4 linked regions of the Homo sapiens genome follow. Changing the gene in region 1 together with any one later gene gives a genetic interaction. Each region holds a gene or a part of one and is shown in the gene's direction. Other genes may lie near its edges.

The links.
Region 2: changes in UBE2J1 (region 1) and SEC31A together harm fitness less than expected from each alone (positive genetic interaction), as found in Homo sapiens cells (one large-scale study listed by BioGRID).
Region 3: changes in UBE2J1 (region 1) and TRAPPC11 together harm fitness less than expected from each alone (positive genetic interaction), as found in Homo sapiens cells (one large-scale study listed by BioGRID).
Region 4: changes in UBE2J1 (region 1) and TRAPPC13 together harm fitness more than expected from each alone (negative genetic interaction), as found in Homo sapiens cells (one large-scale study listed by BioGRID).

What each region holds. Positions count from the first base shown.
Region 1 is NC_000006.12:89,328,723-89,332,222, reverse strand, and holds part of UBE2J1 (ubiquitin-conjugating enzyme E2 J1), read left to right. Parts: intron 1-2,235; coding exon of another isoform or gene 2,236-2,265; coding exon 2,266-2,544; 3' UTR 2,545-3,500. UniProt on the Homo sapiens protein: Catalyzes the covalent attachment of ubiquitin to other proteins. Functions in the selective degradation of misfolded membrane proteins from the endoplasmic reticulum (ERAD) and is essential for cells to recover from ER stress.
Region 2 is NC_000004.12:82,860,154-82,863,653, reverse strand, and holds part of SEC31A (protein transport protein Sec31A), read left to right. Parts: intron 1-261; coding exon 262-336; intron 337-1,081; coding exon 1,082-1,120; intron 1,121-1,945; coding exon 1,946-2,023; intron 2,024-3,500. UniProt on the Homo sapiens protein: Component of the coat protein complex II (COPII) which promotes the formation of transport vesicles from the endoplasmic reticulum (ER).
Region 3 is NC_000004.12:183,662,293-183,665,792, forward strand, and holds part of TRAPPC11 (trafficking protein particle complex subunit 11), read left to right. Parts: intron 1-1,554; 5' UTR 1,555-1,575; coding exon 1,576-1,779; intron 1,780-3,500. UniProt on the Homo sapiens protein: Involved in endoplasmic reticulum to Golgi apparatus trafficking at a very early stage.
Region 4 is NC_000005.10:65,628,027-65,631,526, forward strand, and holds part of TRAPPC13 (trafficking protein particle complex subunit 13), read left to right. Parts: intron 1-1,441; exon of another isoform or gene 1,442-1,561; coding exon of another isoform or gene 1,562-2,314; exon of another isoform or gene 2,315-2,902; intron 2,903-3,500. Other genes in the region: SHLD3 (shieldin complex subunit 3), read left to right, coding at 1,562-2,314.

The sequences.
Region 1 (3,500 bases):
ACATTTTTTTTGTTGTTGTTTCTCCAGTTTATTGAAGACTTTAAAGGGTGAGGGAAAATTGAAATAGAAGTTGGGCAAATATAGATTTGCCCTTTACCCAGCAATAACGTACGTAAAGTGGGAGTGAATAGTCTTGAGTGAGTCTCTCCTATTCAGAGAGTGAGCTGGGCAGAGAAAAGTTGGTTGAAGAAGAACAGGGTGGTAGTCTAGGGGGACTGAAGATGGAGGTCCAAGAAAAAAGTGTGTAGCGATGAGTTTAAATCATTTTTGTGTGATCCCAATGTAATTTTATGAATTGCAGGGGAAAACAATGAATTAATTTTAAGGTCAATATGTTTTAGTTCAAGATATTGAAAAAGCTTTCTAATTACTTTTTATTTCATAGTTTTTTTTCTAATAGAAGCATTCTATTACAAAAAGGAAGGTGGTAATCTTTTTTCACCTTTTAGGACAGCCTCCTAATGTTTGTGATGTATTTAAATCTTTTGTGTATTTTCAATCTATGTTAAGTCCCCTTGTTACATATTCCAGTTATACTTATTCCAGTTGTAATTTACTTTGTAATTATTTATTGTCTATCTCTCTTCCCAGAATGTAAGTTCTGTGAGGGTCAGGGGTCTCTTTCCGCTTCTCCACTGTATCCCCAGTGCCTGGCTTAGTGCCTTCTATATAGTAGATTGCCAATGTTTGTTTGTTGATTGAATGAATGAATCTTAGGATTGGTACTTTAAAAAATGCTAAGAATACAATTAAATAAATCAAGAAGTTTAAGTAAATTAGAGTGTACAAATAATGATGTTATTATAGTAGTATTTCTTGTTTTGATTTAGTACATAAAACTTAGAATTCTTATTCATAGATACAGGTCATTAATTGAGACTATTTTTAGTGAAAATACCAACAAGCAATAAATTGTCTAAAATTGCAAGTTAAGTTTTTAATTATATTTACATATAAACTATCTCAGAGTATGATTATATAATTTGACCACTATGAAAGTAACTGAAACCTGGTTTGGCTAAGGGTGGTTATTTTACATTAAGTATAATATAAATTAATTGAGATGTTATACATCAAATCCCAGATAAGCTATGATTTTTTTGTTGTTGTTAGCCTGAAGGAGAGGCAAGAGATTGCCACAACTCTAAATACCTCAGATAACATCAGGCCATCTGTTGCTTTTTAATGCAGATATTTTAGCATCAAAAAGCAATGGGAAATGTAGAAATGGGAAAAACACTGAAGGCAGTTTTGTTCTTGCAGTCTGTCAGATTTTCTCCTTTTCCCAGGGTAGGGATCGAGGTTCTGAATAAGCCATTTCATTTTATAATAAAAAGCAAAACTCCCTCACACATGCTGGTTATTCTAGAAAAATTTATATATATATCACTAGGGACTTAACTAAGAATGTGATTTTTTATCTTTTTAAGGGAGAGTCTCACTCTGTTGCTCAGGTTGGAGTGCAGGCATGTGATCATAGCTCACCGAAGCCTCAACCTCCTGAGCTCAAGTGATCCTCTTGCCTTAACCTCCCAAGTAGCTAGGACCACAGGTGGGCATGACCACACCTGGCTAAGTTTTAAAATTTTTCTGTAGAGATAGTGTCTCACTATGTTGGCCAGACTGGTCTCAGATGCCTGGGCTCAAGCAGTCCTCCTGCCTCAACCTCCCAAAGTGCTGTATGATTGTTTTAAATAGGAAAAAATTTAGAATTTTATAATATCAAGGCACTTAATTTTTAGTTAGTGATATACCATCCAAAAGGCATCTGAGGCTGGGCACGTTGGTTCATGCCTATAATCCCAGCACTTTGGGAGGCCAAGGCAGGAGGATCGCTTGATCCCAGGAGTTCAAGACCAGCCTGGGCAATGTAACAAGATCCCATCTCTAAAAAAATAATGATTAAAAAAATAGAGACAAAAGGCATCTGAAACATAGGAACCTAATTAAAACATTATATGTATATACATATTTTCATTAAGCGTATGTGTTAAAATATCATCTAGACCAATGTTTTAAGGGATTGTTTTTCTAAATATATTAATAAAACTATTAAAAGGCCAAAAAGCTGTCCTAACTTATGACTTTTTTTTGAACCTAAATTTAGATGCCCCTCAAGGGATGTATTATTAGTAACAATCATTCTTGGTAGTGTTGCCCTTAGTCATATGTTGTCCTCTGAGATTGTGTATTCTTGAATAGATAACAAGTGTATTTACAAATCTTCTTTGCCAGTTTCAAACAAAGTTTCTTAAAATTTCCTAGTACGGACTCCAGAATTCCTCAGCAGCATCCTTTCATCAACCTACCCAACCTGTAGCTAAGAATACCTCCATGAGCCCTCGACAGCGCCGGGCCCAGCAGCAGAGTCAGAGAAGGTTGTCTACTTCACCAGATGTAATCCAGGGCCACCAGCCAAGAGACAACCACACTGATCATGGTGGGTCAGCTGTACTGATTGTCATCCTGACTTTGGCATTGGCAGCTCTTATATTCCGACGAATATATCTGGCAAACGAATACATATTTGACTTTGAGTTATAATATGGTTTTGTGACTTATGAGCTGTGACTCAACTGCTTCATTAAACATTCTGCATTGGGTATAATCTAAGAATTGTTTACAAAAAGATTATTTTGTATTTACCCTTCATTCCTTTTTTTGATCCTTGTAAGTTTAGTATAAATATATCTAGACATTCAGACTGTGTCTAGCAGTTACGTCCTGCTTAAAGGGACTAGAAGTCAAAGTTCCTTGTCTCACTATTTGATCTGCTTTGCAGGGAAATAACTTGTTTTTTCTCATGTTTCATCTTCTTTTTATGTAAATTTGTAATACTTTCCTATATTGCCCTTTGAAATTTTTGGATAAAAGATGATGTTTTAAGTTCCAATGAGTATTACTAGTTACTCAATACCACTTATTGAGTACTCTGTTTCTACGTATGTAGAATGTATAGGGATAGAAGAGTTGAAAAGGGAAAGCAAAACTCCTCAAGTAGCTTCCTTAAAATGTCATTCATAGGAGATGTACTGGAATTGCTCATTCTGTGACTTTATTTGTGTCCTAAACATTCTTCAGTGAAAATAATTTTATTTCAGTCAAACATTTATGAGGAAATGAGATCACATCTTTGTCACTGGATGCTACTTGAAGAGGGAGTACTTTGTAACCACTTTGATATGCTGTTATCACCACCCCCTGCCCTCTGCTGCCATAATCACACAAATTTAAAAAGAAAGAAAACAGTCTTCCATAGATTTTTAAGGAAGAAAGGGCCCAAGCCAGGAGATCGCTTGGTTTTCTTCCAGAAGTTAAATGGGGGGATCTGAAGATTTGAATGTTTGGTCTGCTTTGAAATGTATGTCTTTTGGGATGTATTATATGCCTAGCTTTATAATCAGTATAAATTTTAATTATTCCAGGAATATGCATAATATTGAAATATTTCATGTCCTATTTTAATAGAAAACCTCAGGGCCCAAGTAACAGTGATAGAA
Region 2 (3,500 bases), on another chromosome or scaffold:
AATTACTAGTATATTTACTATTAATAAATAACTTATTTAAAAAAATAATTCTGGGCACATGTTCTCAGGACCTCCTGAGGCTGGGTCTCCAAATAAAAAACAAAAAAACCCACTATTCTTTGGATTCCTTCAAACAGTGAATCTTTAGAATGTAGACTTCAGATATTTTTAATAATTCTCTTTGGAATTTGATTCATTCTTATAAAAATTCGGCCTTTAAATGTAGGTCTTTGTTTTAAGAATATGTCTTTTTTTTTAAAGGTAAACTTTGAGGATGATTCTCGTGGAAAATACCTTGAACTTCTAGGATACAGAAAAGAAGATCTAGGAAAGAAGGTAAACTTTTGGGAAAGTTAGATGGCATGCTCTTTATGAATCATACTTTTAAAAAATAAAGTTCTACACAGATTATCTCAAATCACCCAATAAACATTTAATAATAATTTGTGTTTGGTTGCCAGCGTTTTTTCCCTTTTTCTTTTTCTTATTCTCCATCATTACCCACAGTGGTTGCCAGAGTTTTGAATACATATTGATAAATGACTATGTAACTTGTATTAGCCTTTCATCATTCTTTGGAAATGGCTAGAGTTTTCTATAGCATTGCAGGTTGTTGCATGTGTGGTAGAGGTATACTGTGCACTTTAAGTGCATATTGAAGATTAGTGCTCTTTTGATGTCAGGCAGAACTAACTAAGATCACATCACAACCCCACTGCTTAGTGGCTATGTCTTTGCTCACTCCTTTAGAGTTTTATATTTAACTTTATTAGTAGTCTAAACTTCTTGAGGCTGTAACTTTTTTAGGCTTGTAAGAGATTGATATGAAAGTTTTACTTGCATGCCTGATGGCAAAAAATGAGGAAATAGAATGATTGTCGGATTATTTCTAATTACTTCCATGTGAAAGAAGCTAGCACCATGGAGAACCAGTTCTGCATAGCTTTTTTAATTTTTTTAAACATACTATTCCTATAAGAACTTTTGTGGATTTTCGCCAGTGAGAAGCAAGAGGTGAACATTTGCTGGATGCTCTGAAATAGAATTCCATGTAGTAGGTGAGCTGTTATTTTTATTTCAGATTGCTTTGGCCTTGAACAAAGTGGATGGAGCCAATGTGGTAAGAAGGCCTTTAAAAATAGCTACCTTCTAAAACTTTGGCTAGGTCATAACGAAGAAGGAAATATCATTTAAGAAATTTGTGTTTTATGCTTTATGGTATAAAAATAAATGCTTATTCTAGATATTTTAATAAATTAATAATTCTCATTTTAAAATAACATGAGCTTAGCTGGTAGAGCATTCCTTTCTCTTGACATACATATTTGAATTTTGTAAAGCAGGAAAAACAGAATTAATGACTACTCAAATACTTAAGATAAAATTTTTTTTTTTTTTTTTGGCCAGGAAAAAAAAAATGGTAGGAAAGAATGGGAAAGTGGGCCGGGTGTGTTGGCTCATGCCTGTAATCCCAGCACTTTGGGAGGCCGAGGCAGGTGGATCACCTGAGGTCAGGAGTTCAAGACCAGCCTGACCAACATGGTGAAACCCTGTCTCTACTAAAAATACAAAAATTAGCTGGGCGTGGTGGCACATGCCTGTAATCCCAGCTACTTGGGCGGCTAAGGCAGGAGAATTGCTTGAACTGGGAGGCGGAGGTTGCAGTGAGCCGGGATCGTGCCACTGAACTCCAGCCTGGGCGACAGAGTGAGACTCGGTCTCAAAAAAAAAAAAAAAAAAAAAAAAAAGAATGGGAAAGTGTTAGCAGTAATAGTTCTTTGCTTTTCCTCTAATGGTATTTCTCAAATAAATTTACTCACTGTTGCTTCTTATGATTAAACTAGCTCTGAATGTTGTTGGTTGGGTCTTTTGTCTTCCTGGTTCACTAATAGCCTTTTAATACTACATTCTTCACCTTCCCCTGTAATTGTTTTGTGTACCAAAGGCTCTTAAAGACTCTGACCAAGTAGCACAGAGTGATGGGGAGGAGAGCCCTGCTGCTGAAGAGCAGCTCTTGGGAGAGGTACTTATTTTTTTTTCATATTATATTGGACAAATTTGTGATATTTGTGTATCTCACATTAAAATAAGGAAAATTTTCTTGACTACTTATGGCAAAATAAAGTTGAAGTAAATTGTTTTCTTTGAGATGTTTAGGATAGGAATCTATCTACCTATACTGACAGAAGTATCATCTCCAGACTCTAGTTCTCCAACCTTGTTTCTGGATTATATGGTTTAAAACTAACAGTTGATGTGAGATTAACATAATTTGGTCAGATGACTCTCAGGATGTCAAACTGAAAAGAGATTTTATTCAAACATCCTCACTGCATTGCATTGCATGTAAAGTTAATGTTTTTCTTGGCCTATAATTTTGGGCCAACTATCAGTGGCTAATAGGCCTCTGAATTAGTACTGAACATGGAGTTGAAGTAAAGGATATTTCACTAAACTTATTGTCATGATTTTCAATAAATGTGTCCTTAGTTGATAATTTTTGTAAATAATTGAGAAGAGTCCTTGAACACAGAGTTACATCATTAATTTTTCCTTTTAATTTTCTGGGTGTTTTTTTTTTTTTAACCACTAATGAACAAATCTGTAATTTACTTTTCTTGCTTTCTAATTTTATTTCATCTTGGAAAATTAATCAACAAGTTCTTCTCATCTCATCTTTGGCTTTTTCATTGTTCTTTGTGATATCTTGACTATGGAATGTTATGTATAATTTTTTACTAAGTTATAAAAATAAGTAAATTTAGTCTATTACAAGATGATTGCAAAAATCATTCTCCTTAGAAGTGGATCTCCTAGAGTTTAATTAACAAGGGAATAAAGGATATGGATAAAATCTTTACTAAAACTTTGAACTAGGCCAGGCATGATGTTTGCTTATGCCTGTAATCCCAGCACTTTGGGAGGCCAAGGTGGGAGGATCACTTGAGGCTATGAGTTCAAGACTAGCCTGGACAACATAGTGAGACCCTATCTCTAAAAAAAAAAATAAAAAATTAGCCAGGCGTGGTGGCACATGCCTGTAGTCCTAGCTATTTGGGAGGCTGAGGTAGGATCACTTAAGCCCAAGAGTTCGTGGTTGGAGTGAGCTATGATCACACCATTGCATTCCAGCCTGGGTGACAGAGCAAGACCCTGTCTGATTTAAAAAAGAAAAGAACTAATTTTGAGAATATTTAGACAGAATTGTAAGATACATAGAGAAATGTACTTTCATTTATGTACAACTAGACTATGTATTATCAAATAGAAGATCATTTGGGAATGCACTCATGAATAATAGGTAAGAAATATATGCATTTAATGAAATAGTAGTCATCAATGTGTACTTTTGGTTCTTTGAAAAAATGTGTTTAAGGAGGTAAAATCTTCCCCTTTGTCTCAATGAGCTATTTGTTTCATAGTAGCTTACACATTGAAGGCACTCAATACCTAATAAATTGTGCATTTTTTGACCTTATATCTCGTTCAGAAGTCCATAA
Region 3 (3,500 bases), on another chromosome or scaffold:
TTGTAGTGAGCTGATATTGGGCCAGTGCACTCCAGCCTGGTGACAGAGTGATACTCCGTCTCAAAAAAAAAAAAAAAAAAGAACCTCATGTTGTTACATCCTTTTGCAAGTAAGATTATATTAAAAATATAATGACAGTCTTGTTCGGGATAAACATAGTTTTATATACTTATAAAGTCAGGGCATACGTTAGATTTATTATGGACTGATTCTTAGCTAAAGGACGCAGTGGAAACATCCTCCGAGAGGTTTCCATTCATTGTTAGTTTTTCCCTTACAGATTTTTCTTTAAAGAGTAAATTTTATATTGTGGGAAATGAGACAACATAGCTACTATTTAGATAATTACATAAATTAAAGGCTATTTTAATAATATCCTAGGTATTCAGAAATTCAATATTAGCAATTACAGAGAAATTAGGGGAAGTTTATTATATGTAAGTCAACTGTTTTTCTTTTATATTTTTCTTTCAATATATTTTTCTTTTATAGTTGAAATAGATCATGTAGATCTATTTTAATTTTATCACCTTCTTGCTTTCTTGGTCTACTAATTTCAAAGTTCTGTGTGCATTTTGAGACATTACTGAAAATGCCGATTTGTCTTAAAGTTGACTTCATTTTTAACATGAAAGATTTTTTCTTAAATGTCATATAGTTATTACATTTTAATAGATCTAATTCAGGAATTAAAGTTTTCCCTTTTTCTCTCTTCTGTTTGTTTGACAGTTTGCAGATACTCAAAGCCTTTTGCCTTTTTGTAATGATTATTTTATTTATTTTATTTTTTTTGAGACAGAGTCTCACTCTGTCACCCAGATTGGAGTGGAGTGCCGTGATCTTGGCTCACTGGAGCCTCCGCCTCCTGGGTTCAAGTGATTCTCCTGCCTCAGCCTCCAAGTAGTTGGGGTTACAGGTGTGTGCCACCATGTCCAGCTAATTTTTTGTTTTTTGTTTTTGAGACAGAGTCTCCCTCTGTCATCCAGGCTAGAGTGCAGTGGCGCCATCTTGGCTCACTGCAACCTCCACCTCCCGGGTTCACGCCATTCTCCTGCCTCAGCCTCCTGAGTAGCTGGGACTACAGGCGCCCACCACCACGCCCGGCTAATTTTTTGGATATTTAGTAGAGACAGGGTTTCACCGTGTTAGCCAGGATGGTCTCGATCTCCTGACCTCGTGATCTGCCCACCTAGGCCTCCCAAAGTGCTGGGATTACAGGCGTGAGTCACCACGACCAACCAATTTTTTGTATTTTTAGTAGAGACAAGGTTTCACTGTGTTGGCTAGGCTGGTCTTTAACTCCTGGCCTCCAGTGATCCACCTGCTTCGGCCTCCCAAAGTGTTGGGATTGTATGCGTGAGCCACCATGCCTGGCCTTGTAATGATTATTTTTTTGTAATGATTTTTAAATAGAGATTCATATATTGGAAATGAATATGAGTTGTTTTTTTTTTTTTTTTTTTGAGACAGAGTTTTGCTCTTGTTGCCCAGGCTGGAGAAATGAATATGAGTTTTTAAAAATTAATTATGAATGTATTAACATTTGTATTTCAGGTTTTTTGTGACATCGTAAACATGAGCCCCACACAGTGGGACTTCCCTGTGGAATTATGTTGCCGGCCTATGGCCTTTGTTACTCTAACGGGCCTGGATGTAGTTTATAATGCAGTCCATCGAGCTGTCTGGGACGCCTTCTGTGCAAATCGGAGAGCTGATCGAGTACCAATTTCTTTCAAGGTGCTCCCAGGTGACCATGAGTATCCCAAATGTAGACCCAAGGTAATGGCATTGTGATGGCATGTGTTCTTTCCTTCTCTCTCTCTATGTGTGTGTGTGTGTCTTTTTTGTTCTGTTGTGTGTGTGGAGTTTATCAAGACAGTGGTCACAGTGGTGCATAAAGAAAGCCTTAGGCATTTTCATGTAATACACTGCATGTATATTTAATAATAGTTCTTTTTTTTTAAACTCCAGAGGAATAATTACTTTATAAAGCTTTCTATCCTATGAGCCCAGGTTTTCCCTTTTTTGTTTTTAGGAAAAAACCCAACATAGTCCCCTCTAAAAGGAAGGTCTTGCATTCCCCACCATCATTACTAATGTCGTTTTTGAATCCCATGGTCTGTGCAATGTGGCTCAATTTCACAGATTTTTTGAGCACTTGCTTTGTGATAGGTACCTGGAACCATGCAACAAGCTAGTGATACGAATTTAAGTGAGACAGGTTCCCTATTCTTGAGGAGTTTTACATAAACTAACACAGTTTATTCATTGCGGAATGAAGAAAGGTATTAAGTTCAAAACTGACTTTTAAGGTGAACGACATAGTAAAGACGACTTTACCTTAGATAATAATTATTATCATGATGATAGTATCACTAATAGCTAACATAGTTGTAAAAAAACAGTAAAACAGTTTACTGTTTTAAGCAGTTTATGTGTAGTGATTTGTTATTTATCATAATCTTATGAGGTTGGTTTGAAAGTTAGGTGATAAAACCCTTTTAGTTCTGACCCCTATCCTTTTTTTTTCTTTTGCCCTAGAGCAGTGTCTCTGACATAGTAGTCTCTGGACCAAGTATGTCATCATAACCTGGGGTATTTATTAAAAATGTAGATTGCAGCCCTCCTCTTTGGTTTCTGGGAATATAGGACTTGGTCACCGGCTGATTATTTTTGTGTGTGTTTGAGAACCACACGACAACATTTCATATACTCAGCCCTGGAAACTGAGCTCTCTGAAATTGTGCAAGTAATAGCATCCCAGCCCTGGCCCTCACACGATTATTTTTCTTTTCTTTCTTTTTTTTTTTTTTTTTTTTTGAGACGGAGTCTCGCTCTGTCCCCGAGGCTGGAGTGCTGTGGCGCGATATCGGCTCACTGCAAGCTCCGCCTCCTGGGTTCGTGCCATTCTCCTGCTTCAGCCTCCCGAGTGGCTGGGACTACAGGCGCCCGCCACCACGTCCAGCTAATTTTCTGTATTTTTAGTAGAGACGGGGTTTCACCGTGTTAGCCAGGATGGTCTCGATCTCCTGACCTCGTGATCTGCCCACCTTGGCCTCCCAAAGTGCTGGGATTACAGGCGTGAGCCACCGTGCCAGGCCTACATGATTATTTTTCTTTAGTGTCATGTTTGTGTCAAGAAGGCAGGGAGCCCAGCACAAGCCCTCTTTTCTCTTAATGCTCGAATTCAAGCTGCTTTTCATTTCTCTATTCCCAGCTTTTGGCTGAGTCCCCATGTTATTTTGTGTCAGACTTCCTTATTGACCTCATCTTTCCTTGCTGGAGGTAGACATTGGATCACCATGAAGTGGAGTAGTCTGAGCCAGCACAGCTGATTTGGAAGGAATGTGAGGTTTCAACTGCATCCCTCAGGGCTAACACTCAAATCTACAGCATCCTCTTCCCACTCTGTGGCACTCAGTGCCCAGACTCAAGTGGCTGCTGTGAAGCTTCTGTTTAAGAATTGTTCTCTGCTTTGTACTTCATCTACAAGTGAGGTG
Region 4 (3,500 bases), on another chromosome or scaffold:
TTATTTTTTTCTGCTGTTGTTAGGATGTGAAAAAGTCTGTTTTATGGCTCTTACAGCTTTGGGCCTGATTAGCAAGCCTAACTTGCAGATATTGGAAGGCTCCATTCTTGAGCCTATGCACCATATGCTGGAATTTATTATCAGTGACTTAATTTGGGGCAACTTGAGGACTTCTGTGCTCTAAGAGAAAAAAATAGGAGTCTAGACTTCTTGTTCTCTTCCAAACTGGAATTCAAAAGCCATGGTATTGGGGTCTCCATACTGTTTAATTGCCTGGATTATGAGGAGAAGACAGTGTCACAAAACTGGTTCTTAGCCTGGTTAAACCATATTAGCAAAGTTAAACCATATTAATGGTTTTAGTTTTTACTACAGAGAATGACGTGAAATCATCAAATATTCTATCTATATATTTGTTTGGTGGAATCCATATAATTTTTTTTTTTTTTTTGAGACGGAGTCTTGCCCTGTCACCCAGGCTGGAGTGCAATGGGAGTACGATGGCGCGATCTCAGTTCACTGCAAACCTCAACCTCCCGGGTTCAAGCGATTCTCCTCCCTCAGCCTCCTGAGTAGCTGGGATTACAGGCACACGCCACCACAGCCGGCTATTTTTTGTATCTTTAGTAGAGCCGGAGTTTCACCATGTTGGCCAGGCTGGTCTCAAGCTCCTGACCTCGTGATCTGCCCGCCTTGGCCCCCATAAAGTTCTGGGATTACAGGCATGAGCCACCGCACCTGGCAAATCTACATAATTTTAAGTATAAAATGATTAATTTTCTTCCAGACAGATTAGAATTTTTTTTTTTTTTAATGAGATGAAGTCTTGCTCTATCGCCCAGGCTGAGTGGCATGATCTTGGCTCACTGCAACCTCTGGCTCCCAGGTTCAAGCTATTCTCCTGCCTCAGCTTCCCTAGTAGCTGGGACTACAGGCATGCGCCACCACACCCAGCTAATTTTTTTTTGTATTTTGAGTAGAGATGGGTTTTCACCATGTTGGATTAGAATTTACAGTGATTTCATTGTCCTCAATTTAGTTGCCTCAAATTTTTAAATATTACATTTTTTGTTAATTCATATGAAAACAATATTTTAAGAATCATTCATTTACTCTTTGTTTCTGCTAAAGTTTTAAGACTATTATTACTTAATATATTAATATCGATACTTCCAAGTCCTTTATATCTATTGAGTTAAACATGTTGACTACTAGCGTTTTTAGGCAGGAAGTGATTTTATAGGGCATCTAGTTCAGATCCCTTATTTTGGTAAGAGAAAGAATTTTCAGGTTTGTAGATTACATTCACATTTACCAATAGCACTTTGGTAAAATACCACATTGGGATTGGTTTTTGTTTTTTGTTTTTCCTTTTCTCCCTGCCTGTTGGTAGGCAGGGTATCCCTACCATATCTTATTCTTTGCAATACTTCTACTTTAGGTCCTGTTTCCCTCTGATTTGGCAAGAGAGACAATCTTGCAATAATAAATTAACATTCTAGCTCTGAGGAGTTCAACTAAGAAATTTTCTCATCACTAAGAGTAACTGGATTACTGCAGAATGACTACAGAAGTAATATTACATTATCGACCATGTGAGAGTGATCCCACACAACTGCCAAAAATTGCAGAAAAAGCAATTCAAGACTTTCCTACTCGTCCGCTATCAAGATTTATACCTTGGTTTCCATATGATGGGTCCAAGCTTCCACTCAGACCTAAAAGATCACCACCTGTGATTTCTGAAGAGGCAGCTGAAGATGTGAAACAGTACTTAACCATTTCAGAACATGATGCTAAGTCACACAGTTATGATTGCACAGTAGATCTATTGGAGTTTCAACCTAGCTTGAAAAAGCAGCATTTAACCTGGTCACACACACTGAAGGAACAGACTAATTCTGGAAATCTGGGTAAACAATCAGAAAAGGGAAAACAGCACAAGAGGAGATCTTGGAGTATTTCCCTTCCCAGCAATAATTGTACTAAAAACGTTTCTCCTTTGTCTAAAAAATTGCAAGATAGTTTAAAGGCACTAAATTTACACTCACTTTATAGAGCAAGATGGACAATAGAACACACTATTTGTAACAGCCAAACTCTGGAAGACATTTGGACAAAACTCAATCAAATTATTAGGCACAATGAACTTCCATCTTGTAATGCTACAATTCAGAGGCATTTAGGCCAAATATGGGTGTTCTGTGATATTATGTATTGTGAATATGTGGGAAGTCTTCTTAAAGGAAGATTAGCTCTTACTGGAAAAATTAATTTATTTGTGCATAAATATGGTGTTATTTTTAGTATGTAATGAATTCCACTGATTGTCAAAAAGAATATTCTGAATGAAATGAATATGGATTGAAATAGATAAAATAATTTTTACAGGTTTTAAAATTTTTAATGACTTTTTAGAATTCCTAGGCTTGTCAATTAAGTCAAGAAATTGCTGAGTTCTGCTTATTGGCAGCCTTCTTTTAAATGTGATAAATTATTGTTTACACTGAATTTGAAGGTAAAAATGTTCTGTTCCTTTTGTTACAAACTGTGATTGAATTAGTCATGAATTAAGTTGTATAGTTTGGATTTTGGTTAATCTCTAAAATCTAATTTTACTGTATTTTTTTCCTTACCTCAAGTGTAATTTTTTAAAAAATAAAACTCGAAACAATTCTCTTTGGAGTGCTATTTATGTGGCATGAATGTAGTTCAAAGTGGGAGACTAGTCTAGATTTATAATGATGTTTCCAAAGATATGTAATAACAATTGATAGGCTGTTTTCAAACAACGATACAAAATGTATACTTTGCCTAAAACGATAATGTATCCTGTTTTGAAGGAAAGTATCAAATGTTGAATGATTGTTTATTTCTTCTAATACAGATAATTCAGTATTAATGATAGTTAGTGCTAATTATTACTTGGCTGATGATTGGAGTCATTGTAGGTTCCCCATAAGCATAATCTTGTAATTGGTTTTACACATCACCTCATAAAAATGCTCAAAGGGATTAAAACAGTAAAAGTTTTGTAGAAGCATGTATGTTTGTTTAACATATTTAAATGCCTACTTTGCACTAGGTGCTAGGATATACTAGGGAAGGAGACAGACATGGACCTTGCCCTCACACAGCTTACATGTCATTACTACTATTAAACACACCAGCTCCCTAAGAAAAATAAGACTGCACTTAACTAGGAATATAGACATGTTTACCTTGAAGCTCAGTGCCTGTCATGGTAGGAGCTTGATAATGCATGGTAAACATTCCCTTCAGAGGGATTCTTCATAGCCTGAGATGGCTGAGGTTGCTTAAAATGGAAGCCCACTAATTTTTTTTTCTTTCTAACTTTTATTTTAGGTTCAAGGGGTACATGTGCAGATTTGTGATATGGGTAAATTGTGTGCCACAGGGGTTTGGTGTACAAATAGTTTTGTCACCCATGTAATCAGGATAATACCCAATAGGTAGTTTTTTAGTCCTCACCCCCTGCC